Linked DNA regions of Homo sapiens: all the other regions are linked to region 3. The links come from fine-mapping of genetic effects on plasma protein levels. A gene starts in region 3. Each other region holds a variant in brackets. All regions are shown on one strand. Distances are between the middles of the regions.

Evidence for each region. A credible set is the group of variants that fine-mapping cannot tell apart. PIP is the chance, under the fine-mapping model, that this variant and not a neighbour inherited with it causes the effect. The UK Biobank Pharma Proteomics Project read protein levels with antibody pairs (Olink). The fine-mapping took linkage between variants from a reference panel, not from the people measured, so its PIPs are less certain.
Region 1: its variant is the best candidate, but not a certain one, in a credible set for the plasma level of the EFHD1 protein (UK Biobank, PIP 0.54). The variant lies in the coding sequence of EFHD1. If it changes the protein, the assay may bind it differently, which can mimic a change of level.
Region 2: its variant is the best candidate, but not a certain one, in a credible set for the plasma level of the EFHD1 protein (UK Biobank, PIP 0.68).

What each region holds. Positions count from the first base shown.
Region 1 is chr2:232,668,669-232,676,668 of GRCh38, forward strand. EFHD1 (EF-hand domain family member D1) reads left to right here. Exons shown (of 4, transcript NM_025202.4): 3 at 3,641-3,775. Among named protein-coding and RNA genes, the nearest start is that of GIGYF2, 25 kb to the right of the region's middle. The variant A/G (reference allele first, on the strand shown) is at 3,747.
Region 2 is chr2:232,711,137-232,719,612 of GRCh38, forward strand. The region is part of intron 2 of GIGYF2 (GRB10 interacting GYF protein 2); the gene reads left to right. Among named protein-coding and RNA genes, the nearest start is that of GIGYF2, 18 kb to the left of the region's middle. The variant T/A (reference allele first, on the strand shown) is at 4,977.
Region 3 is chr2:232,630,248-232,638,247 of GRCh38, forward strand. It overlaps EFHD1 (EF-hand domain family member D1), which reads left to right and starts at 3,357. Exons shown (of 4, transcript NM_025202.4): 1 at 3,357-3,759. The coding sequence starts at 3,458. RefSeq lists silencers at 3,395-3,454, 3,532-3,826.

The DNA of each region.
Region 1 (8,000 bases), 38 kb after region 3:
TGTCACCCAGGCTGGAGTGCAATGGCGCGATCTCGGCTCACTGCAACCTCCACCCCTCAGATTCAAGCGATTCTCGTGCCTCAGCCTCCCGAGTAGCTGGGATTACAGTTGTGTACCACCATGCCCGGCTAATTTTGGTATTTTTAGTAGAGATGGGGTTTCACCATGTTGGTCATGCTGGTCTCGAACTCCGGACCTCAGGTGATCCGCTCGACTCAGCCTCCCAAAATGCTGAGATTACAGGTGTGAGCCACCACGCCCAGCCAGTGCTCCCATCTTTTCACAGCTGCCTGTCTGGGTCCCAGAGAGCACTGGCCTGGTGGGGCTGCCTGTTCTCTTTGCCTCGTGGAGCAAGGAGGTGGGGCCTTCTGTGAAGGAAATGATTTAAGGATAGCAGGGCACGGAGCGACCAGTATGTCAGTCCCTCTCTCCACATGCCTCTCATCCGCAGCCCTGAAGTCTGCTGCTTCGATCTTTTCCACCCCTGTGTCACCATCCCCTTGACCTCCAACCTATTCTTGGGGGGCCTGGCCTCCTCCAAGGGGCCTGTCTTCTTTCAAGTCAATGTTCAGGTTCTGATAATCCACAGCAAACTGAGTCTCTGCCGGCCTCTAGTGAGAGAGTTTGAAGCTGCAGGTGGTTGAACATGGCTGACCGTCGGCCTCTCCGTGGGCATCTTGCTGTGTCTCTTGCTTTGTATTTGACAATATCCACGGTAGCGTTAGGACCCTGAAGGGAGCAATAGGAAGAGGGTGTCTTACAAGGCATTTCGGGGATGCGGTGGTTGAGCCTCTCACCGGCATGAAACACACTTCCCTCTGGGGATTGAGAGCCTCGGCAGTAATGATACTCAAGTGAGGATTTGGAAGGCCTGTAGAAGTTGCTTAACCTATCACTCTACTTTAAGTAGTGTTCTTTTCCCTTTTGAGAAGGCTTTTTTTTTTTTTTTTTAGACAGAGTCTTGCTCTGTAGCCCAGGCTGGAGTGCAATGGTACGACCTCGGCTCACTGCAACCTCCACCTCCTGGGTTCAAGCGATTCTCCTGCTTCAGGCTCCTGAGTAGCTGGGATTATAGGCAGGCACCACCACGCCCGGCTAATCTTTGTATTTTTAGTGGAGACGGGGTTTCACCATGTTGGTCAGGCTGGTCTCGAACTCCTGACCTCGTGATCCACCTGCCTTGGCCTCCCAAAGTGCTGGGATTACAGGCGTGAGCCACTGCACCTGGCGAGAAGGCATTCTTTTAGGGAAGAGGGTTATGAAAAAAGACCTGGAAACCTGCAATTTTCCTGTGGGTGCATACATTTTAGGTAGCACCTGAAAACCTGGAGAGAGCCTCTTTCGATGATAGCTTGGAACGTATCAGTTTATATTCTTTCCATATGGAAAAATAAGTCATGAAGCTTAGATAGCAGTTGTTTAAAGAAGAGAACTAAAAAAGCCACAAAATTGCCTTGGGAGAGGACAGGAAGATGGGGAAATTGCCATTTAAGTTTGGCCAATTTATAGCTGGGCATGGTGGCTCATGCCTGCAATCCCAGCACTTTGGGAGGCCTGAGGCTAGGAGTTCAAGACCAGCTTGGTCAACATGGTGAAACCCCATTTCTACTAAAAATACAAAAATTAACCAGGTGTGATGTCACGCTCCTGTAATCCAAGCTACTTGGGAGGCTGAGGCGGGAGGATCACTTGAACCCGGGAGGCAGAGGTTGCAGTGAGCCGAGATCGAGCCATTGCACTCCAGCCTGAGCAACAGAGCAAGACTGCATCTCAAAAAAAAAAAGGTTGGCCAATTTATTTATTTAAAAGTTTGTTCTTTGGAAGCCTGAAGATTAATTAATTCAGGTCACATTTTGAATCTGGAGGAGGAGGGTGGATTATTCAACAAATGATGCAAGGATTACTAACCAACCATTTGGAAGAAAATAAGGTTAATGATTAACCTCACATGATAAATAAAAATAAATTTCAGAGATTAAATATTTACATGGTTAAAAAAAAAAAGAAGCCATAAAAGTTGTAGACAAAACATAGGTGGTTGTTTATATAACCTTGGTGCTGAGGAAGGTTTTTCTAAGCATAACACTATATGTAAAATTTTTGAAAGTTGAAAATTAGCATAAACATACTTAAAAGGCAAGTGATAGAGCTAAAATATTTGAAACATACCAGGTTCTATGAAGATCTTTAGCAAATGGTAAGAAAGGCAAACAATCTAATGCAAAAATGAGACACACAAGAAAAGTACAAGTTGTTAAAAAACCATTGGAAATATTATTTAGTTTTTAAAAAATAGTATATACAGGTTTATTTGATTTTTCTTTCATCACTGTAAACTAGGATGCTGCTAATTTTTTACTTTCATAGATAATGTTTAAACCATTGTAGGAATGTTTCTGAAGGATAAATTCCCACCAGTGGAATTAATGGTTGGAAGGCAAAAAGCATCTTATTTTCAGTAAACATTTCCAAAGTGCCCATCAAGGCCAGGCACAGTGCCTCACACCTGTAATTTCAGCACTTTAGGAGACTGAGGCAGGAGGATCACTTGAGACCAGGAGTTTGAGACCAGCCTGGGCAACGTAGAAGACCCTGTCTCTACAAATTAAAAAAAAAAAAAATTAGCCAGGTGTGGTGGCACACGCCTGTGGTCCCAGCTACTCAGGAATCAGAGGGCATAGGACCACCTGAGCCCAGGAGGTCAAGGTTGCAGTGAGCTATGAACACACCACAGCACTCCAGAGCGAGACCCTGTCTCAAGAAAATAAATAAATAGGCTGGGTGCAGTGGCTCACACCTGTAATCCCAGCACTTTGGGAGGCCGAGGCGGGCGGATTACCTGAGGTCAGAAGTTTGAGACCAGCCTGACCAACATGGAGAAACCCCGTCTCTACTAAAATACAAAAAAATTAGCGAGGCATGATGGTGCATCCCTGTAATCCCAGCTACTCGAGAGGCTGAGGCAGGAGAATCGCTTGAACCTGGGAGGCAGAGGTTGCAGTGAGCCGAGATCGCACCACTGCACTCCAGCCTGGGCAACAAGAGTGAAACTCCATCTCAAAAAATTAAATAAATAAAAAAGAAAATAAATAAATAAAAGTTTGAGGGTGGGAGGCAGTGGCTCACGCCTGTAATCCCAGCACTTTGGGAGGCCGAGGCGGACAGATCACTTGAGGTCAGGAGTTTGAGACCAACCTGGCCAACATGGCAAAACCCCATCCCTACTAAAAATATAAAAATTAGCCGCGCATGGTGGCACACACCTGTAATCCCAGCTACTCGGGAGGCTGAGACATGAGAATCGCTTGAGCCCAGAGGCAGAGGTTGCAGTGAGCCGAGATCATGCCATTGCACTCCAGCCTGGGCAACAGAGCGAGACTCTGCCTCAAAAAAAAAAAAAAAGTTTGAATCGGTTTACACTCTCAAATAAATATGAAGGTGCCCATTTCCCTATAGCCTTGGGAAAAATCGGCATGTTTTCATTTTTGACAATCTGATGAGGGAAAAAAGTAATTTGCCACATGCATACATAAACATCTTTCTTAAGTGATTGGCAGAGTGACTTCAGCTTGGACCAGAGGGCTGGTTATGAATCTGTCAGTGAGACTGACTCTGGTTCCCTACTTTCTTTCCCCTGTAGTTCCTGCTCATTTTCCACAAGGCCGCGGCAGGGGAGCTGCAGGAGGACAGTGGGCTGATGGCGCTGGCAAAGCTTTCTGAGATCGATGTGGCCCTGGAGGGTGTCA[A/G]AGGTGCCAAGAACTTCTTTGAAGCCAAGGTAGGTGCTTAGTTCCTTCTGTGAGGAGCAACCACTCCCAGCCTTCACGCTGCCCACCAGACTGCAGCTGTCATTTTCATCTCAGCAGAGCACACCTGCAGAAACAGACCAGGAGGGTCCTCCCAGTGCTCTGCCAACCAGCAAGTGGGTGCCAGTCCACCTGAGTTCAGACTCTGCCTCCTCCATCTCCCTACCCTGTCCACTCTGAGCCTCGGTGTCTTCATCTGTATGATGGAGGGGTGACAATAGAATTGCCTGAATGATTAAATGAGTTCATGTACATGAAAGCATTTAGGAAGTGCCTGGCTCACTGTGAGCCCTTCATAGGTGGTATGGGCTGTTGGGACTCTTGTGGAGTTTTGTTTTAGTTTATTCTGGAAGCTTGCCCAGAGACAGAGTGCCTTGGTGACATATCCTGGCCTGCCCAGTCCCCTAAGCAGGACTCTAAATTCTTACTTCTCTTTGAGGCTGCTTGGAGACAGATTTCATCATCTCTCTGCCATGCTGAAAGCCCAGTGCTCTCATCTGACAGTGTCAGGGACAAGCCAACCACTCATTGCGCCTTAAACACTGGCACCATGTGTCCAATAATGAAAGTGGTTTGGTCCTTCCTTCCTGACTTAACATTGATTCAGCCCATCTCCAGCAAAGCTGGGCACCGCATTGAGCTCTAAGATACAACTCCTTTCTAAAGGCGAAGTGGTCATAACTGTTGCCCTTCCCAGGGCACACACATAGTCCAGTGAAGAAAGCAAGTGCCACAATGACACAGAGAGGGTAGAGAGGAGGGAAGGGCTATTTTGCAGGGATGGGTCTTCTCCATCCATTGAGTATATAACATGCAGATGTCTTATGATGCTTTGGGAGAGGTGCTAGGGTTGAGAGCCCGAGCTTAGCAGGACAGTTTTCACTCCACTGCTCCAGTGCAAGGTGATACGTGCTCTAGTTGAAGTAGGTTTGAGTGTCTGGGAATGTCTTATCTGGGTATTCAAGACCTGTTATGATCTGGCTCTGATCCCTGCTTCAGCCTCATCCACCCCCTGCAAATGCTGCCACGCCTTTCCCAACTGGATCTCCTGTCCCCTCTGCCTGAACGCCCTACCCAAATGCCTCTGCCTAGAAAACTCTGCTTCATCCAGACCCACATTGAAGAGTTCCCTCCCCTGGGCTGCTTTCCCTGACTGTCCATCCTCTTCTGTGTGCCTCTAGTACACATGGAAGTGGTGTTATAATTTATCGTTTCAAGGCACCCTTACATGCTTTTGGTAAAAGTATAAATTAACCCAGCTTTTTATTTTATTTTATTTTTTGAGATGGAGTGTCGCTCTGCCACCCAGGCTGGAGTGCAGTGGCAGAATCTTGGCTCACTGCAACTTTGACCCAACTTTTTGTAAAGCAGTTTGAAACTAACTATGCACATTTTATATTTTTCCCTTCCAGAATTCTACCTCTTAAGACTTCTTCTTTTTTTTTTTTTTTTTTTGAGATTGAGTCTCACTCTGTCTCCCAGGCTGCAGTACAGTGGCACGATCTTGGCTCACTGGCACCTCTGCCTCCCAGGTTCAAGCAATTCTCCTGCCTTAGCATCCTGAGTAGCTGGGCCTACAGGCGCCCACCACCACGCCCAGCTAATTTTTGTATTTTTAGTAGAGACAGGGTTTCACGATATTGGCCATGCTGGTGTCAAACTCCTGACCTCGTGATCTGCCTGCCTCCACCTCCCAAAATGCTGGGATAACAGGCGTGAGCCACCGCACCCATGCAAATGCACATACATGTATGGACAAGGATTTTCATACAATAGTGTTAGTGATAGAGAAAAATTAGAAATAACCAAAACTTCCATTATCAGGGAAGTGAGTTCATTGTGATATACCCACACATTTGCACACTCTGCAGCTGTCAAAAAATGAGATGCAGCTGCGTGTCCGTGTGGACAGATGTCCAGAATAAATGAAGCAAGACAATATGCTGGAAACCTAATTTTGTAAACATGAAATCCAACCTGGATCATTATATGCCAAAGTATCAGTAATAGTTTTGTCAGAGGGACTTATTTTATATTTTTGTAATGTTTTACAATGAGTGTGCATTATTTTTATAACTGGAGAAAAGATGAAAAGAATGACAATAAAAATTCTTACAGCTCGTTATGTTTATAGGTCTGCCTCCTCACCCAGAATCAAAGGCAGAGTAGGTATGATATCTTTGTAATTACAGTGCTTGGTATATAATGGCCCTCAATAAACATTTGCATGGATGACAAATGGAGGGCATCGTCACTGGATTTGGGAGAGGGCCATAAAGGAGCCGCCATTTGTGACAGATGTTCCAAGATGAATGGGGATTCACCTTGTAATCAAGGAAGGGAGGGCGTTGTGATCGTGGGAACACCAAGTGGAAGGCTCCAAGGCATAGAGGGTGAGACGTGTTTGGAGGCTGGAGAGGCGTCCCAATGTGAGGATACAGGATGTGTGAGGGAGCAGGGCTGGTGACATGGCCGGAGGTGAAAGCCAAGATGCAAATATGGTGACCCCAGCCTGGCCAACATGGTGAAACCCATCTCCACTAAAAATACAAAAATTAGCTGGGTGTGGTGGTGCACACCTGTAATCCCAGCTACTTGGAAAGCTGAGGCAGGAGAATTGCTTGAACCCGGGAGGCGGAGGCTGCAGTGAGCCGAGATCGTGTCACTGCACTCCAGCCTGGGTGACAGAGCACGACTCCACCTCAAAAGAAAAAAAAGAGAGAGAGAAAAGAAAGGAAGGAAGGAAGGAAGGAGAAAGAAAGAGAGAAAGAAAAGAAAGAAAAGAAAAGAAAAGAAAAGAAAGAAAGAATATGGTGATCAGGAAACTGGGCCAGCACTTGCCACCCTTTGGCACACCATGGCACATGTGGTCTATGACTCTGAGATAGGATGGCTCCCAGCTACACTAGACGCTATTGGACAGAGAGCTCCAGCCTCCCTGAGGCTGAGAGGAGTTCCTCTCTGGGCACCTGGTTGGGAAGGTCAGGCCTTCCCCCGACTGCTGAGTGTTAGAACCACCTGCACACCGGCTTCCCAGGCCCACCCACATCCACCTGGGATTTCTCCAAGGTGGGTTTCAGGAAACGTGTAGTCGATGGAGCTGTGACATGATTCCGATGCACAGCCGCAGGTGCAGGGGAGCCGTTGAGTGTTTGAGCAGGGCCTTGACGTGATCGGGGTGGGCACTACCAGGACACACTTGCCTGGGGACAGTTTAGACTCAGGGAAGTTTTCACAGATGTCCTGAGAAGAATTGTGGGTCCAATAAGGGTAGGGACAACCAGACTAGAGAGGAGGAGGAGACAAATTGAGAATTCTCTGGAAGTCTCAGTGTTCATCACTCCATTGGAGGAGGGAGATAAGTGCCATGAGGTTTGTAAGGAGGGGAGTTGATGATATTTTTCATCAAGACCAGCCTCCCAGGCCAATTGCGGTGGCTCACATCTGTAATCGCAGCACTTTAGGAGGGTGAGGTGGGAGGATTACTTGAGGTTAGGAGTTTGAGACCAGCCTGGCCAACATGGTGAAACCCCATCTCTACTAAAAATACAAAAATTAGCCGGGCATGGTGGCATGCGCCTGTAATCCCAGCTACTCAGGAGGCTGAGGCATGAGAATCGCTTGAACCCAGAGGCAGAGGTTGCAGTGAGCCGAGATCAGGCCATTGCACTCCAGCCTGGGCGACAGAGCAAGACCATGTCTCAAAGGAAAAAAAAAAGCCTGGCCTCCCCCTATTCCCAGAATGGCTGTGGTTTGAGGAGGAAAAGTTATGAACTGGGTTTGGTTTCAAGTGTGAGGTGACTTCAGGCACGGGAAAGGCGTGCCCTTTCATTTGAAGGCCATCATGTTGGTTGCAAATAGTTTCTGATCACATCCTGTTTGACCGAACCTGGTGACTCCTGGCTGCATGGGAGGTTAGGGAATGTCTTTTTTTCCGGGATCTGTCTGCCCGGCTGTAATTATGCCACTAGGGAAGATGAGGATCCTATGTGTTGAGGGTCATGGAGTAATTTCTTCCACACATGCCCAATTCTGAACCTGCCATTGGAAAACGCTGGAATATCATTATCTCAGCTGGGCTCTCCTGGAGCCGGGGGTGGAGTCAGTCTCCCTTAGGCCCCTGGGCCATGTTGCAGGCCTCATAGCAAGAAATAAGGCAGGAAGTGGGTGCTTCTGGGCACCTCACAACATAGACCA
Region 2 (8,476 bases), 81 kb after region 3:
AGTCACCCAGACTCAAGTGTGGTGGTGTAGTCTTGGCTCCCTGAAACCTCTGCCTATCCTCCCACCTGTACCTCCTGAGTAGCTGGGACTCCAGGCGTGCCACCATGCCTGGCTAATCTTTTTTTTTTTTTTTTGTATTTTTTTATAGAGATAGGGTTTCACCATGTTGCCCAGGCTTTGTCATTTTTTCTTCTTTCTCTGAGGTAGATGTTAATCAACTTTTTGATCTTAGGATCTCTTTACCCTCTTAAAAGTTATTGAGGGCCCCAAAGAGCTTTTGGTTTTTTAGTTGTATCTATCATATCAAGAAATCTAAAAGGTATTAGTTTATTTAAAAATAACAAACTCATTACATGCTAACATAAATATATTTTTAATATGACATACCTATTTTCTAAAACATTTCTAAAAATTTGTTGATAAAATTGGCATTGTTTTACCTTTTTACAGATTTCTTTTATGTCTTGCTTTATAGAAGGCAACTGGGTTATATTTGCTTCTGCATTCAGTCTGTTGCTATTTATTACTTTGGTTGAAGTATATGAAGGAAAATTATCCTCACAATGATGTATATATATATATATATATATAGTTGTAATAGAATTTCAATAGCTTTTACAGATAATTGCAGATATTCTTTGATATTACACTAAAATTCAACCAGCAGTGTTTTTTTTCTTTTTTTGTATTTTTAATTTTTATCGCTTTACTTTAACACTGCATCACCAGGTAGTTTTTTTTTTTAAAGGTTAGTTGCAATATGAAATCCGAGTTATATCAATAGTTTGTCTTCTGTAAATATAAAATCCATTTGTCTATCTTCGATGTTGAATGGATATCTTACATTATACAGTATCAAAAAATCACTTTCATTGAAATCAGCACTTATCAGAAAAGCCTTTAAATATTGGAAAACTTTCTAACTCATGGTGACGAATAGAAACTTTCCAAAATTCCAATTTTTGCTTGAAAGGTCAAATTTTATAATTGGCAACAGGTACTCTGAATTGTTTTTGTTGAAGTCTCATTCATTTTGAAAAAAAAAGTCTGCTACATATCCTAGTCTGGACACCCATATTGTGTGCAGCTATTCTTTCAAGTCAAAATTATGTTCCGTGAAAAAAAGCAGCTAGTTGAGCTTGTAACCCAAAACAATTGCATTAAGTATCCTTCTACATGACTTTGTATGCAGTAGAAATGCATATTTCCCATTTCATCATGTAGAATATTAAAAAGATGTATTCCTAGGGATCAAGATTAATACAATTAATAGTTTTTATTCCCTCGTCATGGGCATTCGTAATAAAAGTGGCTTTTCCCCCCTCTCTCTTATGAGTACATGCCACATGGCAGTGAAGAATATAGTGACTGCTGGTACAGTTTGTTGCAATTAACTTCAGTCATGCTATAGTGCCAGCAGTTTTCCCCATCACTGCACAGTCTGTGCAAGTGTCAACACATTGAAAAATGCAAATAATATTTTGGTTTTTGCAATAGAAGATTCTCAAACTAGCAAATGAGATCACAATAGTATTTTATAATAGTATTATTAAAAAAACACATCATGGATGCCCTGAAAGAGTTTGGAGGTCCATAGATTGTACTTTGTAAACTGCTGCTTTGAGGAGTGGAACACGTTTCAATGTTACATTTATGTATGTTACATTGATTTTTTAAAAAACGATTTAAAAACATAAGTGTTTGAAATTGGAATAAACATATCACTGAAGGTTTTTAGATATTACTGAGTTTTTAGTGCTAAGTAGATAAGAGTTTGTTTATAAGTTAGGATGAGTTATAATTTTCTGCTATGAAGAAAATGTTCTATGAACCTCCACCATCCAGTACTATAACTACTAGCCAGTTGTGTCTGTTGAGCGCTTGAGATGCTACTAGCTGGTGTGACTGAGGAACTGCATTTTTAAAAAGTGTAGAAAAAACTTCTTTTTTTTTTTTTGAAGTGGAGTCTTGTTCTGTTTCACAGGCTGGAGTGCAGTGGCATGATCTCTGCTCACTGTAACCACCGCCTCTTGGGTTCAAGCTATTCTCCAGCCTCAGCCTCCCGAATAGCTGGGATTACAAGCACCCGCCATCATGTGCAACTGATTTTTTGTATTTTTTGGCAGAGACAGGGTTTCACCATGTTGGCCAAGCTGGTCTTGAACTCCTGACCTCAAGTGATCGGCTGACTTTGGCCTCCCAAAGTGCTGGGATTACAGGCATGAGCCACTGGGCCCAGCCTTAACTTCTAAATTTTAACTTTTTTTCTTTAATAATAGGCTTTAGTTTTTACAACAATTGTAGATTTACAGAAAATTGAGAAGATAGTGCGGAATTCCAGTTATTAACATCTTACATTACTATGGTACATTGTTATAATTAATAAACCAATGTTGATACATTGTCATTAATTAAAGTCCCTCATTTATTTACATTTCCTTAATTGTACCTAGTGTCTTTTTCTGTTTCAGAATTCCATCCAGGATACCATGTTATACCTAGTCATGCATCCTTAGGCTTCTTTAGCTATGACAGTTTCTCTTGTCTTTCCTTGTTTTTGATGACCTTGACAAGTTTGAGGAGTACTAGTTATTTTGTAGAATGACTCTCTTTTAGAATTTGATGTTTTTCATGATTAGACTGGGGTTATGGATTTTTAGAGGAAGATGACAAAGTGTCATTTTCATCATATTAAGAGTATATATGTCAGCATGATTTATCATCCTTGATGTTGACCTTCATACTTTGCTAGGTTTGTCCACTGTGAAGTTAGTTATTCCCCCTGGTGCCCTTGAGGAACTGATTTTTTTTTTTTCTCTTTTTTTTTTTTTGAGACGGAGTCTCGCTCTGTCACCCAGGCTGGAGTGTAGTGGTGCGATCTCGGCTCACTGCAAGCTACGCTTCCCGGGTTCATGCCATTCTCCTGCCTCAGCCTCCAGAGTAGCTGGGACTACAGGCACCCACCACCATGCATGGCTAATTTTTTTGTATTTTTTAGTAGAGACAGGGTTTCACCATGTTAGCCAGGATGGTTTCGATCTCCTGACCTCGTGATCCGCCCGTCTCGGCCTCCCAAAGTGCTGGGATTACAGGCGTGAGCCACCATGCCGGACCGAGGAACTGATTTTAAAATTTTGGTTAATCTTAATTTAACTTTACATAGCCACATGTATGTGGCTAATGGGTGCTGTGTCAACAGTACATTTGTAGATAATGTTCTTCAGTTTTAAGTTTTAGCTAAAACTTTAACATCTGTTTTAATACCTTTAAAGAAGGTAATTTAACATAAAAAATATTAAAGCTTAGTCTTGGAATACATTGCTTTTTTGGGGGGTGCAGTCTATTTACTTTTAGTAAGTTTAGTCTTTTTAAAAAAGAACTTTTCTGAGGTAAAATTTACATACAATAAAATACCTTTATTTTAAGTATACTCATTAAGTGTACATTTTGATGAGTTTTCAGAAATGCACACACTGATGTAACTGTTACTGTAATCAAGATATGTAACATTTTCATTATCCCCAGAAGTTTCCCCCAGCTGTTTTGTAGTCATTTTTCCTCCTCCACCACTGTTCTGTTTTCTGTGACTTATTGATTAATATTTGCGTCTTCTAGAAATTCATGTAAATGGAAATCATATTTAGGTCTGGCATCTTTTTTTTTTTCCTATTTTAATACTTTTATGTTCAGGGGTACATGTGCAGATTTGTTACATAGGTAAATGTGTGTCATGGGGGTTTGTGGTATAGATTAGTACCCATTAGTTATTTTTCCCGATCCTCTCCCTTCTCCCACTCTCCACCCTCCACCCTCTGAGAGGCCTCAGTGTGTGTGGTTTCCCTGTGTGTCCATGTGTTCTTATTATTTAGCTGCCACTTTTAAGTGAGAACATGCGGTATTTGGTTTTCTGTTCCTGCATTGGTTTGCTAAGGATAATGGTCTTCAGTTCCATCCATGTTCCTGCAAAGGACATGATCTTTTTCTTTTTTATGGCTGCAGGGTCTGGTATCTTTTGCTTAACATAATTATCTGTGATTCATCCGTATTGCTGCATGCAAATAGTTTGTTTTTTAATGCCAAGAATTTTCCAAGGTATGACTTTACAGTATTTGTTCATAACATTATTTATGAACATTTGGATTGTCCTCAGTTTTGGGCTATTAGACGTAAAGCTGACCTTAATTTCATGGCATAGGTAATGATTCAGAATTGTATTGGGTTGCAGTGTTTATCACAATACTGTAAATTAGAAATTTAAATTCCTGTTAGGAAGGAGAAAAGCCAGCAGTAATTGTAATTACAGATAAGCAGTATCTGTAATTTTTTTGAAGACATGCCATAGAAAGAATAATTCACATAGAAATAATGTTTTGCAAGGTTTCATGTATAGTGTACGGGCCAGGTAGATGTAGACAATTCCTTGGACTTTTGTTGGCTTTCTGGGAAAAAAAAAAAAAAGTTCTTTGTTAATTCCTTAGGTAAAATGTTTAGTAATAAAGTGAATATTGAAGCCTAAGTTTGCTTCATGAAGTTTTGTCATCAGTAAATGTGTTAACAGATCATATTTTAAAAGTTACTCAAAAATGTTGGTGTATTTATTAGTGAAGAGATTTAGTATTGCCAGATGAGGTGGATGCCGAAGGAAAAGGTGTTTTCTGTTATAATAGATGGGAGAAGAATTTCCTTTTTTTTTTTTTTTAACCTTAAAATTCGTCTTAAACCAAGTTAAAGTTGAAATGAGTGATAACTTTTATGACATTTATGTTGGGACTGTAAAAGTATTTCAACAGGCCAGGCCTATGCTTTTTGTGATAATTAAAATACATTTTGTTATAAAGTAATTAAAGAATATTGCAAGTTATGAGAGTAGAGGACAAATCATTAATTTCACCTCACTAATATTCCTTTGTCTTGTGTTCTTTTTGCCTTTTTTTGGACATATGTATAACTATACTGTGTGCAGATGTTACTATAGC[T/A]GTCTTTTGTTGAGTGAATGTGCCACTTTTACAAGATTGCTTCCAGTCTTTTACTATTATAAGTAATGTGGGTCCCCCTCATGTTTGGACTTTTCCTTTTCATCTTACTTAGCTGTTTTCTGACATTTGAAAAAAAGCATTTGAAGATCTACATTCTTTTAGCCTAGTAAATGAGTCTTGCTTCATTTGAATGTAGGCCTCTTTATGGTCTTAGGAGCTGACAGATTTGAAGATTATTTTATCAAGATAATGGTGTTATTTGTTTTTTTTTTTTTTTTTTTTTTGAGACAGAGTCTCACTCTGTCACTCTGGCTGGAGTGTAGTGGCACGATCTCGGCTCACTGCAACTTCCACCTCCCGCGTTCAAGCAATCCTCATGCCTCAGTCATCCCTACTAGCTGGGATTGCAGGCATGTGCCACCACACCTGGCTAATTTCTTTTTGCATTTTTAGTAGTAATGGGGTTTCACCATGTTGGCTCAGCTGGTCTTGAACTCCTGGCCTCATGTGATCTGCCGCCTTGGCCTCCCAAAGTGCTGGGATTACAGGCATGAGCCACTGCGCCTGGCCAGTGTTTTTTTTGTTTTGTTTTGTTTTTTCTTTTCTAATCGCAAAAATTTAAGCAGGGAATGAATTTAATATGTTATCGGAAGACATTCATTTAAAATAGTTTAAATAGCTTTGTTTCATGCTCACTGAAGTTTTTTTTTTGATACAGGGTCTCACTTTGTAGCCCAGGCTGGAGTGCAGTGTCATGATCACAGCTCACTGCTGCCTCAACCTCCTGGGCTCAGGTGATCCTCCAACTTCAGCCTCCCCAGTAGCTGGGACCACAGGCTAGCACCACCACACCTAGCTAATTTTTGTTGTTTTTTTTTTTTTGTAGTGATGGGGTTTTGCCATGTTGCCCAGGCTGGTCTCAAACTCCTGGGCTCAAGCAATCCAGCTGCCTCGGCTTCCCAAAGTCCTGGGATTACAGGCGTGAGCCACCATACTTGGCCTTGAAGTATTTGTAATTGCTAAAGCATTTATGATTTATTTAACACAACTGGAGCTGGGCATAGTAGCTCATACCTGTAATCCCAGTGCTTTGGGAGGCTGAGGCAAGAGGATCATTTGAACCCAGGAGTTTGAGGTTACAGTGGGCTATGGGCACAGCCCTGCACTCTAGCCTGGGCAACAGTGTTGAGACACTGTCTCTAAGAAACAATAATAATAATTGATAGGTAAAATATGGTAAATACATGCACAAATGTGAAGTTTATAGTTCAATACATTTTTACATGTACATATACATGTATATGTACTTTTGTAGTCACCACTTAGATCATGATAGTGAACTTTTCCAGCACTCCAATTCCCTCTCCTTCCTGTTTAGTAGTCTCCTCTTCCCATGATGAGTACTTTCCTGACATCTATCACCATTTATTATCTATTTGTCTTAGTCTGTTTGTGTTGCTATAAAGGAATACCTGAGACTGGGTGATTTATAAAGAAAAGAGGTTTATTTGGCTCATGGTTCTGTAGGCGGTACAAGAAACATCTGCTTCTGGTGAGGGCTTCAGGCTGCTTACACTCATAGTGGAAAGCAAAGGGGAGCCAGTGTGTGTAGATCTCATGGTGAGGGGAGCAAGAGAGAGAGAGAGGAGGGAGGTGTCAGGCTGTTTTTAACAACTAGCTCTCTTGGGAACAAATCAAGTAAGGACTCACTCATTACTGTGAGAGTGGCACCAAGGCATTCATGAGGGATCTGCCCATAATCCAGACACCTCCCATTAGACCTCACCTCCAGCATCTGTGATCAGATTTCAACATGAGATTTGCAGGGGTCATATACCCAAACCATAGTACTCTTCTTGAACATCACATAAAAGGAATCATACAGTATATATTTTTTTCTAGCCAGCTTGTTTTTCTAAACATGATATCTGGGTGATTTCGCAGTATCATTGTGAATATCAGTAATTTTTTTTGTTGTTGTTGTTTGTTTTTTGAGACGAATTCTCACTCTGTTGCCAAGCTGCAGTGCAGTGGCAAGATCTTGGCTCACTGCAGCCTCACTGCAACCTCCACCTCCCAGGTTCAAGCTGTTCTCCTGTCTCAGCCTCCCAAGTAGCTAGGATTACAGGCGCCCACCACCATGCCCAGCTAATTTTTGTAATTTAAGTAGAGACAGGGTTTCACCGTTGTTGGTCAGGCTGGTCTCGAACTCCTGACCTCACGCGATCCACTCACCTTAGCCTCCCACAGTGCTGGGATTATAGGCATGAGCCACCGCACCTGACTAGTTCCTTTTTTTAAACTGCTGAGTAATATTTCATTATATGAGTATACTGCAGATTGGTTTGCCTGTTGATGTACATTTACATTGATGGACATAATACCCAAATGTCAGTTTTTGACAATTATAAATAAAGCTACTATGAATCTCTTGTCTTTTGGTAGAAATATAACTTCAGTTTCCTTGGATGTATGTGTAGCAGTTTGTTATGGGATCACAGGGTAGGCATACAGTTTAGATTTAATGGATATTGCCAATTCTTTTTGAAGTAGTTGAACTAATTTGCACTAATAAAGTTATTAATCTTGTGTTATCTTAATCCAGATCTGGCTAAACTAAAAATTGCTGGCTGCTGTGGTGGGGACAGAACTACTGATTCGTTTAGTATATGTGGAGAGTGCTAGAGGAGTTGGTCTTTTTTCTGCTTTTGGAAAAACGTAGGTAGGCAGTGGGAATGGGGGCAGATTCAGGTTCCTTGGTATTCATTCTGTGTTAGTTTTGTGGCAGACTATACATAGTACTGGCTGGACTCCATCCCAAATTTTGCCATATTTTTTCTGGGTAAGTTTTGCATAGCTAGGAAATAGAGATTTGTAGTAGCACTTTTTTTTTTTTTTGAGACGGAGTCTCGCTTTGTTGCCCAGGCTGGAGCACAGTGGCGTGATCTCGGCTCACTGCAAACTCTGCCTTCGAGCAATTCTTCTGCCTCAGCCTCCCGAGTAGATGGGATTACAGGTGAGAGCCACCGTGCCGGCCACATAATTTTTATAACAAAGATCCAGGGGGTTTTCAAAGATGTGTATGTTTTGAGTTCTTAGTGGAATAGTGGTGGTAGCTAATCTGTCTTCAAGACTTCTGGAAAGCAGTATTCGGGAACACTGTCAAAGTTAAGTATCAGACACTGTGCTGGAATCTGACTCAGCACCTACTTTGGCTTCTCCTTGCTGATTTTACCCACATGGGACTTACTACGTAGATTTGTCACCTTTTTTTTGAAAGTGATTTCCTGAGCTCAGAAGTTGCTTGGTTCCTCTAGGCTGTTCCAGGCTGTAAGAAAATGGTAGGCTAAGAGGGAGAGGTCAGAGTCTGTCTTTTCTTTATTGTAAACTCAACAATAAGAAGGACCTAGGTTGATTTCTTTTCTTTCTTCTCCTGTGAAAATGTACTCAGAGGCCCACAAAGTGATAGATGAGGTCCCAAAGAGGAGATGAATAGTTAA
Region 3 (8,000 bases):
CCCAGCAAGCATGTTTGAGTCTTTGTCAGGTGCCCGACTGGACATCGGAAAAGAGGAGAAGGAGAACAGGCTTTGGGCTGTGGCCGTAACGGTGACCACCTGGAATTGTCACTAGTGAGATACTAACACTTCATTCTGAGGGGTGGCCAGGTGTTGCCTGGTGAATACTGTGGGCCTGTGCTATTTTCCCTCAGGGGCGGGACATAGCTCAGAGGGCGTTCTGTCTAGGCTGGGTGCCTGGTGGACACAGCCCTCAATCTTTGCCCCTTGCAGATGATGTGCCTTTTGAGAGGCACCAGGTGACTGCTCACAGTATGCAAGCGCATTATCTAAAAGCACTCCCTCATTTGGAAACACTTCAATGAAAAAGTGAAATTTTGTTCACAATCCACTCCCATTAATTTCAGAATTTTCAAGGCTGGGCACCGTGGCTCACCCCTGTAATCCCAGCACTTTGGGAGGCCTAGGCAAATAGGATCAATTGAGCCCAGGAGTTCAAGACCTGCCTGGGCAACATAGAGAGATCTCATCTCTATTAAAAAAAAAAAAAAAAGAAAGAAAGAAAAGAAAAAAAGTCATTTTTAATTTAAAAAATTTTCAACATTATATTCATAAATAAAAAGAGCTGTTAGATTTTTTTAACACTAACTGTTGTAAATTTCAGCATGTAAAAAATGGTTTAAAAATTCTATTACTGGCCGGGCACAGTAGCTCATGCCTGTAATCCTAGCACTTTGGGAAGCCAAGACAGGTGGATTCCTTGGGGCCAGGAGTTCAAAACCAGCCTGGCCAACATGGTGAAACCCCGTCTCTACTAAAAATATAAAATATTAGCTGGGCTTGGTGGTGGGTGCCTGTAATCCCAGCTACTTGGGAGGCTGAGGCAGGTGAATCGCTTGAACCTGGGAGGCAGAGGTTGCAGTGAGCCGAGATCGCACCACTGCACTTCAGCCTGGGCAACAAGAGCAAAACTCCGTCTTAAAAAAAAAATTGTATTACCTACTCATGCAAAGTTTCTCTCTCTCTCTCTCTCTTTCTTTCTCTCTCTCTCTCTCTGTCTCTCTCTCTCTCTCAGACAGGTCTTACTCTACCACCCAGGCTAGAGTGCAGTGGCATGATCATGGCTCACTGCAGCCTCCACCTCCCGGGCCCAAGTGATCCCAAATAGCTGGGACTACAGGTGCATACTACCACACCTGGCTAGTTGTTTTTTATTTTATTTTTATTTTTTATTTTATCTTTTTTTGTACACAAGGTTTTGCCATGTTGCCCAAGCTGGTCTCAAACTCCTGGGCTCAAGTGATGCGTCTGCCTCTGCCTCCCAAAGTGCTGGGATTACAGGTGTGAGCCACCGCGCCCAGCCCCAGAGTTTCTTGTTGATGGAGACTATTAAGAATTTTGAACTTTTTCTTTCTTGAGGAGAGCTCGATGGAATAAGAACATTAAAAAAAAAAAAAAACAAAAACAAAACCAGCTGGGTGTGGTGGCTCATGCCTGTAATCCCAGCACTTCGGGAGGCCGAGGTGGGAGGATCGTCTGAGGCTAGGAGTTCACAACCAGCCTAGCCAACATGGAGAAACCCTGTCTCTACTAAAAATACAAAAAATTAGCCAGGTGCAGTGGTGGGCGCCTGTAATCCCAGCTACTCAGGAGGCTGAGGCAGGGGAATCACTTGAACCCAGGAGGCAGGGACTGCAGTGAGCCGAGATCATGCCATTGCACTCCAGCCTGGGAAACAAGAATGAAACTCCATCTCAAAAAAAAAAAAAGTTTTTAAAATATAAAATTAAAAAAAGTTTAATTACACAAAATTTTTGACCTTATTTCTCTGAAATGTGTCACATAAAGTGGTCAAAACAGATGTGACAACAAAGCCAACCTTCTAGTCACCACCACCAGGTCAGGAAGTGTAGCGCCCCGTGATCTATTTGCAGGGTTGCCATTGTATATGTAAAACCCGTATTCTCTGTACCAAGTCAAGTTGTTCAGTAGGAATGTTAAAGATTTTTATACTTTTCTTTAAAAAACGTATTTTCCTTTATAACTTTTTAAAAATAACATTTTAACCCAGGTCCCCCGCATGCCCTGCACTCGCATGCCAAAGGCTGGTCCCTGGGTCTCAGACAACCATAGTCCAGCGGGGTCACTGACCTGCCCCAGTCATCAGCCCATGGTGGGTCAGAGCAGCGTCGTTCTCAAGTGGGGACAGACCCGTGTTTACAAGATTCTCAACGCCTGGCTGATGTAACAGCGGCATCAGCCTTCCTTGGGGAGAATGACGACTGTATTTGTTTTTACCCTCTTGTTAAAAATGCTGATTTAATTTTCAAGCTTCTTTTCCTTCTTTCCTTTCTTTTTTCCTCCCCCTCTCCCTCCTTCTTCTTCGTTTATTTTTAGAGCCAGGGTCTCACTCTGTCGCCCAGGCTGGAGTGCAGTGGCCTGACCATGGCTCGTTGCAGCCTCGACCTCCCGGGCTCAAGCCATCCTCCTACTTCAGCCTCCTGAGTAGCTGGGACTACAGACGAGCGCCACTATGCCTGGCTGATTTTTTAAAAGTTTTTGTAGAGACAGTCTAACTATGTTGCCCAGTCTGGTCTCGAACTCCTGGGCTCAAAAGATCCTGCCACCAACACCTAAGTGTTGGGATTGCGGATGTGAGTCTCCGCGCCAGGTTTCTTCTCTTTTCTTGTGCGTTTCACGCAAAAAAACCCGAGTCCCTGAAGCTACGCTGCTTTCCTGCCTCTAGGGAAAACGGGAGTTTTTTCTGCTCGTTTGCTCTCTCTCTTTTTTGTTTGCTTATTTGTTTTTAGTATTTTTAGCATGTTTTGGAAACATTTCGTTCCAATGAGTGTTTGAAAAGCAGCTCCCCCGCCCCACGCTCCGGGCGGGCGCCTCCCACTCCCTGACCCCGGGGAGGGTGGGCACCACTCCCAGACGCGGGGGACGCGTGGGTGTCGCTCGGGGGCGCTCGCCTCCCCCACCCAGCCTGTCCCGGGCCGCGAGCGCTTCCAGTCGGGTTACTTCTGGGGGACAAGAAAGGCACCGTCTGAACGGTCGAGACGCTTTTTCCCGCTACGGTTTTCCCCGGAGCTGACAGGGGCAGCAAGGTCGGAGTTGATCCGAGGGTCCCTGCCTGGTCCCGGGGGGACGGTCAGCCTCCCGCCCGGAGCCGCGGGGAGAGGAAGCAGGTCGGGGTCTCCGGGACGCGCAGACACCCAGACACCGGCGGCCTCCTCCCACCAGGCTGGCAGTCGCTGAGCCCTGGCGCCTCCTTAAAGCCGCAGCTCCGCCCCGACCGCCCCGCCCGCCAGTCCGTCCTCAGACCCTCCCAACCGCCGGGTCCCCGCCGCCTCGGCGGAGTGTTGTAGAGCCTCGAGCCTGCGAGGAGCGCGCCGCCCGCCAGCTCCCTGCGTCCCGTCCCGCGTCCCCGCGTTCCCGCGTCCTGCGATCCGCCGCCATGGCCAGTGAGGAGCTGGCGTGCAAGCTGGAGCGCCGGCTGCGGCGCGAGGAGGCCGAGGAGAGTGGCCCCCAGCTGGCTCCCCTCGGCGCCCCAGCCCCGGAGCCCAAGCCCGAGCCCGAGCCTCCCGCCCGTGCGCCCACGGCCAGCGCCGACGCGGAGCTGAGCGCCCAGCTGAGCCGGCGGCTGGACATCAACGAGGGCGCTGCGCGGCCCCGGCGCTGCAGGGTCTTCAACCCCTACACGGAGTTCCCGGAGTTCAGCCGCCGCCTCATCAAGGACCTGGAGAGCATGTTCAAACTGTGAGCTCCCGCTGCGCGCCCTTCGCCCCCGGGACCAGGGAGGGAGCGGGAGGGCTTTCTGGTCCGAAGTCCCGGGCCCTGTTTGTGTGGGGAGGGGTCCCGGGGTGCAGGTAGCATTTGGCCCAACGCAGCCAGATCTTGCGTGCTCGGGTCTATCTCGGCGCGGTGGGGGACGGGGCCGAAGAGGGGGGACACCAGGAGCAGGAGCTCTCCGGGACGGAGCCCAAAAGTTCTCGGCGGCTGCCGGGCCCGAGTTCCAGGTCCCCCAACCCCGACCACTGGTCCCGCCCCCTCCGCCCGCCAGTCCGGAGATTTGCTCCGAAAGCAACTTCTAGGAAAGGGAGCCGTCGCCGCGCCTCACCTGCCAGCTTTCACTGTATCCCCCCAAGGGAAAAATTAGCCCCTGTTGGCCTTTTATCTTTTAAAACAAAAGGGGAAAGTTAATCCTTGGCTGCAGCGCGGGGTCTGATGAATGAGCGGAGGCCGAGAACGGGGAGTTTGGTAAAGTCGTTGTAAGAGATTCAGGACTTTCCTGGAGCAGGCGCGGCCCGGGAGCCTCCTGGGGGCGCGGGGAGGGGGGGCGGTTGTGGGAACCGAACTTGGCCGCTGGCACCGGTCCGGCGGGGGCTCGTTGCGGTCCTGCTCTGTGAGCCCCAGTGCGCGGGGAGCCGCTCACCTGGGGAGACACTGAGCCAGAGGCAGGCGATAGAGACCCACTAGTCCACCTCGTCGCCTGGAACCTCCGGGGATCTCAGTTTCCTCATCTGGAGAGTGGGAGCAGTAACAGTCCCTGCCTTTTAAGGCCGAAAAGTATTTTGCACCCGGTAAGCTCTTAACCGAGCTATTAATATTTCCAGAATTGAGCCGAGACCGGAAAAATGCCTGGGGGAGCTGAGGCCGCCGGCCAGGTCATGCTTGGGCGTTTTTAAAAGCGCATGGAATGTGTTTGCCCTCCGCGTGGAGGTTCTATTTAAAGGCGCTGTGACTGGCGCTGCGTCGCCTGAGCCTCCGCTGCCCCTGCATGGAGGTTTGCAGAGCCGGCACTTGGGAGCCTCCGCCTCCTCTGCCTCCCTGACACCCTGGTTTCTTTGTCTGGCTTCCAGGCACTGATCTGTGGCGTTTTCTGGGTCTAGTTTGGGCAGTTCAGGAAGGCCCAGTGCGCTAAAGAATGCGGCTGGGGCGAAAATGGAAAAGCAATGGGTGAGGCAAGGTTTGTTGGAGCCCTTTGATTTCTCTGGGGTAATGCCTTTCATGGGAAGACTGCCCTGGCCGGGCTGCTCCCAGACCCCACCAGTTCCTCCCAGTCCAGCTGGATTCAGGGGATCTTGGGGAGGGACCTTTATCTTCAAGTTTTCTTGTGGCCACTCAGGCTTCTTTTGTTTTTCCTATAAAACAATCTTTGGAAAGATCAACTTGTAGTTGACTACCTAAGAGTGATAAAAAGAGTCCATATGCTCAGAGGGTCTTGGGAGACGAAGCAAGGTGGCATCTGTGAGCAAACAGGTACTGGACCAGGATCACGCAAAGGGGAGCCGGGCACAGTGGCTTACGGCTGTAATCCCAGCACTCTGGGAGGACGAGGCAGGCGGATCACCTGGGGTCAGGAGTTCAAGACCAGCCTGGCCAACATGGTGAAACCCCATCTCTACTAAAAATCCAAGAATTAGCCGGGAGTGGTGGCGCGGGCCTGTAGTCCCAGCTACTCGGGAGGCTGAGGTGGGAGAATTGCTTGAACCTGGGAGGCAAAGGTTGCAGTGAGCAGAGATCACACCATTGCACTCCAGCCAGGGTGACAGAGGGAGATTCTGTCTCAAGGGGAAAAAAAAAAAGCCAAGGGGAAGGCAGTGTGTGGCCTGGGATCCCAGCAGAGCTAACAGTTCAACCAGTACTTGGTATTTCTTTCTAGGTTGAGTTTTCTGTCACTTGCAACCAAAATTGGCATAAACAAAACGAGAATAATTTGGCTGAGGAAACCAAAAAGCCATCACTAGCTTCAGGTGTGGCTGGATCTAGGCGCTTAGGTGCTGCCATCAGTGCTTAGTTTCTCTTTTTGTTAAGCCACCTTCCTCTCTGCGTTGTCCCCGTTCTCAGATGGCTCATCCTTGGTGGTGGTGGTATGGCCACAACAGCTTAAATTAATAACATAAGAATGTTAAAAACACTAAAGAAAATGTAACACACCAATTTGTTTTCTATTGGATTACCTTCCAGATTTTACTCATGGCAGCAGCAGTCTTGTGAGGCTGTGAAGAGTGAGCACTTGGAGGCAGGCTTCCTGGGTTCAAACCCCAGCCCCACCACTTGCTCCCTGGAAGGTTCCTTGGGCAGCTTATTTAAAAGCTCTGTGCCATCAGTTTTCCCTTCTGTCAAATGGGAAAGCACAGGACCTGCCATGTGGGGTTATTGTGGGGATTAAATTAATTCATGTATGTGATGCATTTAGCTCCATGTTTCAGCCTATGGTGAAGGCCAGGTGGATTTTAGCCCCTAATTTTTAGATTATCACATATCCATAATTTGGGTAAATGTGCACATTTGGCTGGGTGTGGTGGCTCACACCTGTAATCGCAGCACTTTGGGAGGCTGAGGCAGGCGGATCATGAGGTCAGGAGTTCGAGGCCAGCCTGATCAACGTGGTGAAACCCCGTCTCTACTAAAAATACAAAAATTAGCCAGGCATGGTGCCACACGCCTGTAATCCAGCTACTCAGGAGGCTGAGGCAGGAGAATCGCTTGAACCTGGGAGGTGGAGGTTGCAGTGAGCCGAGATCACGCCATTGCACTCTAGCCTGGGCAACAGAGTGCGACTCCGTCTCAAAAAAATAAAAAAAGTACACATTTTGTGTTGTCCTTTTTTGTTTAATAATTCACTTTGCTGAGTCCACTTTATCTTTTGAACCTGATTTAGCCCACAGTTTGAGCTGTGGAGTGGTGACCTGGCCTCTTGGTGAGTTCCGGGTCCCCGTGGGACTGTGTGCTTTGCCCTTCCGGGTTCTGCGGAAGGAACTCGTTAGCTCCTCTGCTGCTGGGTGAGGTCGTTTGTTTCTTAGAGCTGCCTGAATGAAATGCCACAAAGTGGGTAGCATAAAACAACAGAAGTATATCCTCTCATAGTTCTGGAAATCAGAAGTCTGACAAGTCTGAAACCAACGTGTCAGCCGGGCTGTGCTGCCCTTGAGGCGCCAGCGAAGACTCCTTCTGTGCCTGTTTCCTGGCTTCTGGTGGTTGCCAGAATTCTTGGTATTTCTTGTGGTATGGGCGCATCACCGTAATCTCTGCCACCCTGAGCACCTGGTGCTCTCCCTGTGTGTGTTTCTGTGTCTTCACATGGCCTTCCTTTTTTTTTTTTTTTTTTGAGATGGAGTCTCACTCCATTGCCCAGGCTGGAGTGCAGTGGTGCGATCTTGGCTCGCTGCAAGCTCCACCTCTTGGGTTCATGCCATTCTCTTGCCTCAGCCTCCCGAGTAGCTAGGACTACAGGCGCGCACCACCATGCCCAGGTAATTTTTGTATTTTTAGTAGAGATGGGGTTTCACCATGTTGGCCAGGCTGGTCTTGAACCCCTGACCTCAAATGATCCACCCGCCTCAGCCTCCCAAAACGCTGGGATTACAGGCGTGAGCCACCGCGCCTGGCTTAAGAATTTCACTTTTAAGCAGTTTCTAGATTCATGTTCTGATGTCGCCTTAGTTCGTTGGGCCCCTTGCAGTATATAACCTGATTAGACCAGTACAAAGTACACCCTGTCTTTTTGTTTGGGGCTAGAAAGATTCATACAGATACTGGGAGACATGCTTTGATCGTTTAAATTTGATTTTCCTATTTAAAAGTATTTGGCTTAGGGATTTCTTACATTTTCAAGGCTTAAAAAAACTGGATCCTTCCCAGCCTCTGAGTTTGTTGGGTGCTTGGAGTGGTGTCCTTTGTGAGTCCTTAGGACCTAACAAATGAGGCTGGCTCCTAAATGGTGTGTTGTAGAAGAAAGAGTGTTTTCTAATGAGTGTGGGAAGCCAGAGGCACCATCAGCCCGGCCAGAGAAAGTTCCCTCTCCATTTCCAAGCCTGTTACTGGATAGCCTGAGCCAAGAGAATAGTGGCCTGATTTTAAAAGAATGAGAAGGCCCAGAAGAAACTGACTCTACAGCGTGTATCCGTGGCTGTAACGTGAGCTGGTGGAGCAGTCAAGGTTAGACAGGAAATTTTAATTACCCTGGACTTATCTGGAGGCCTCTTTCAAAGGGA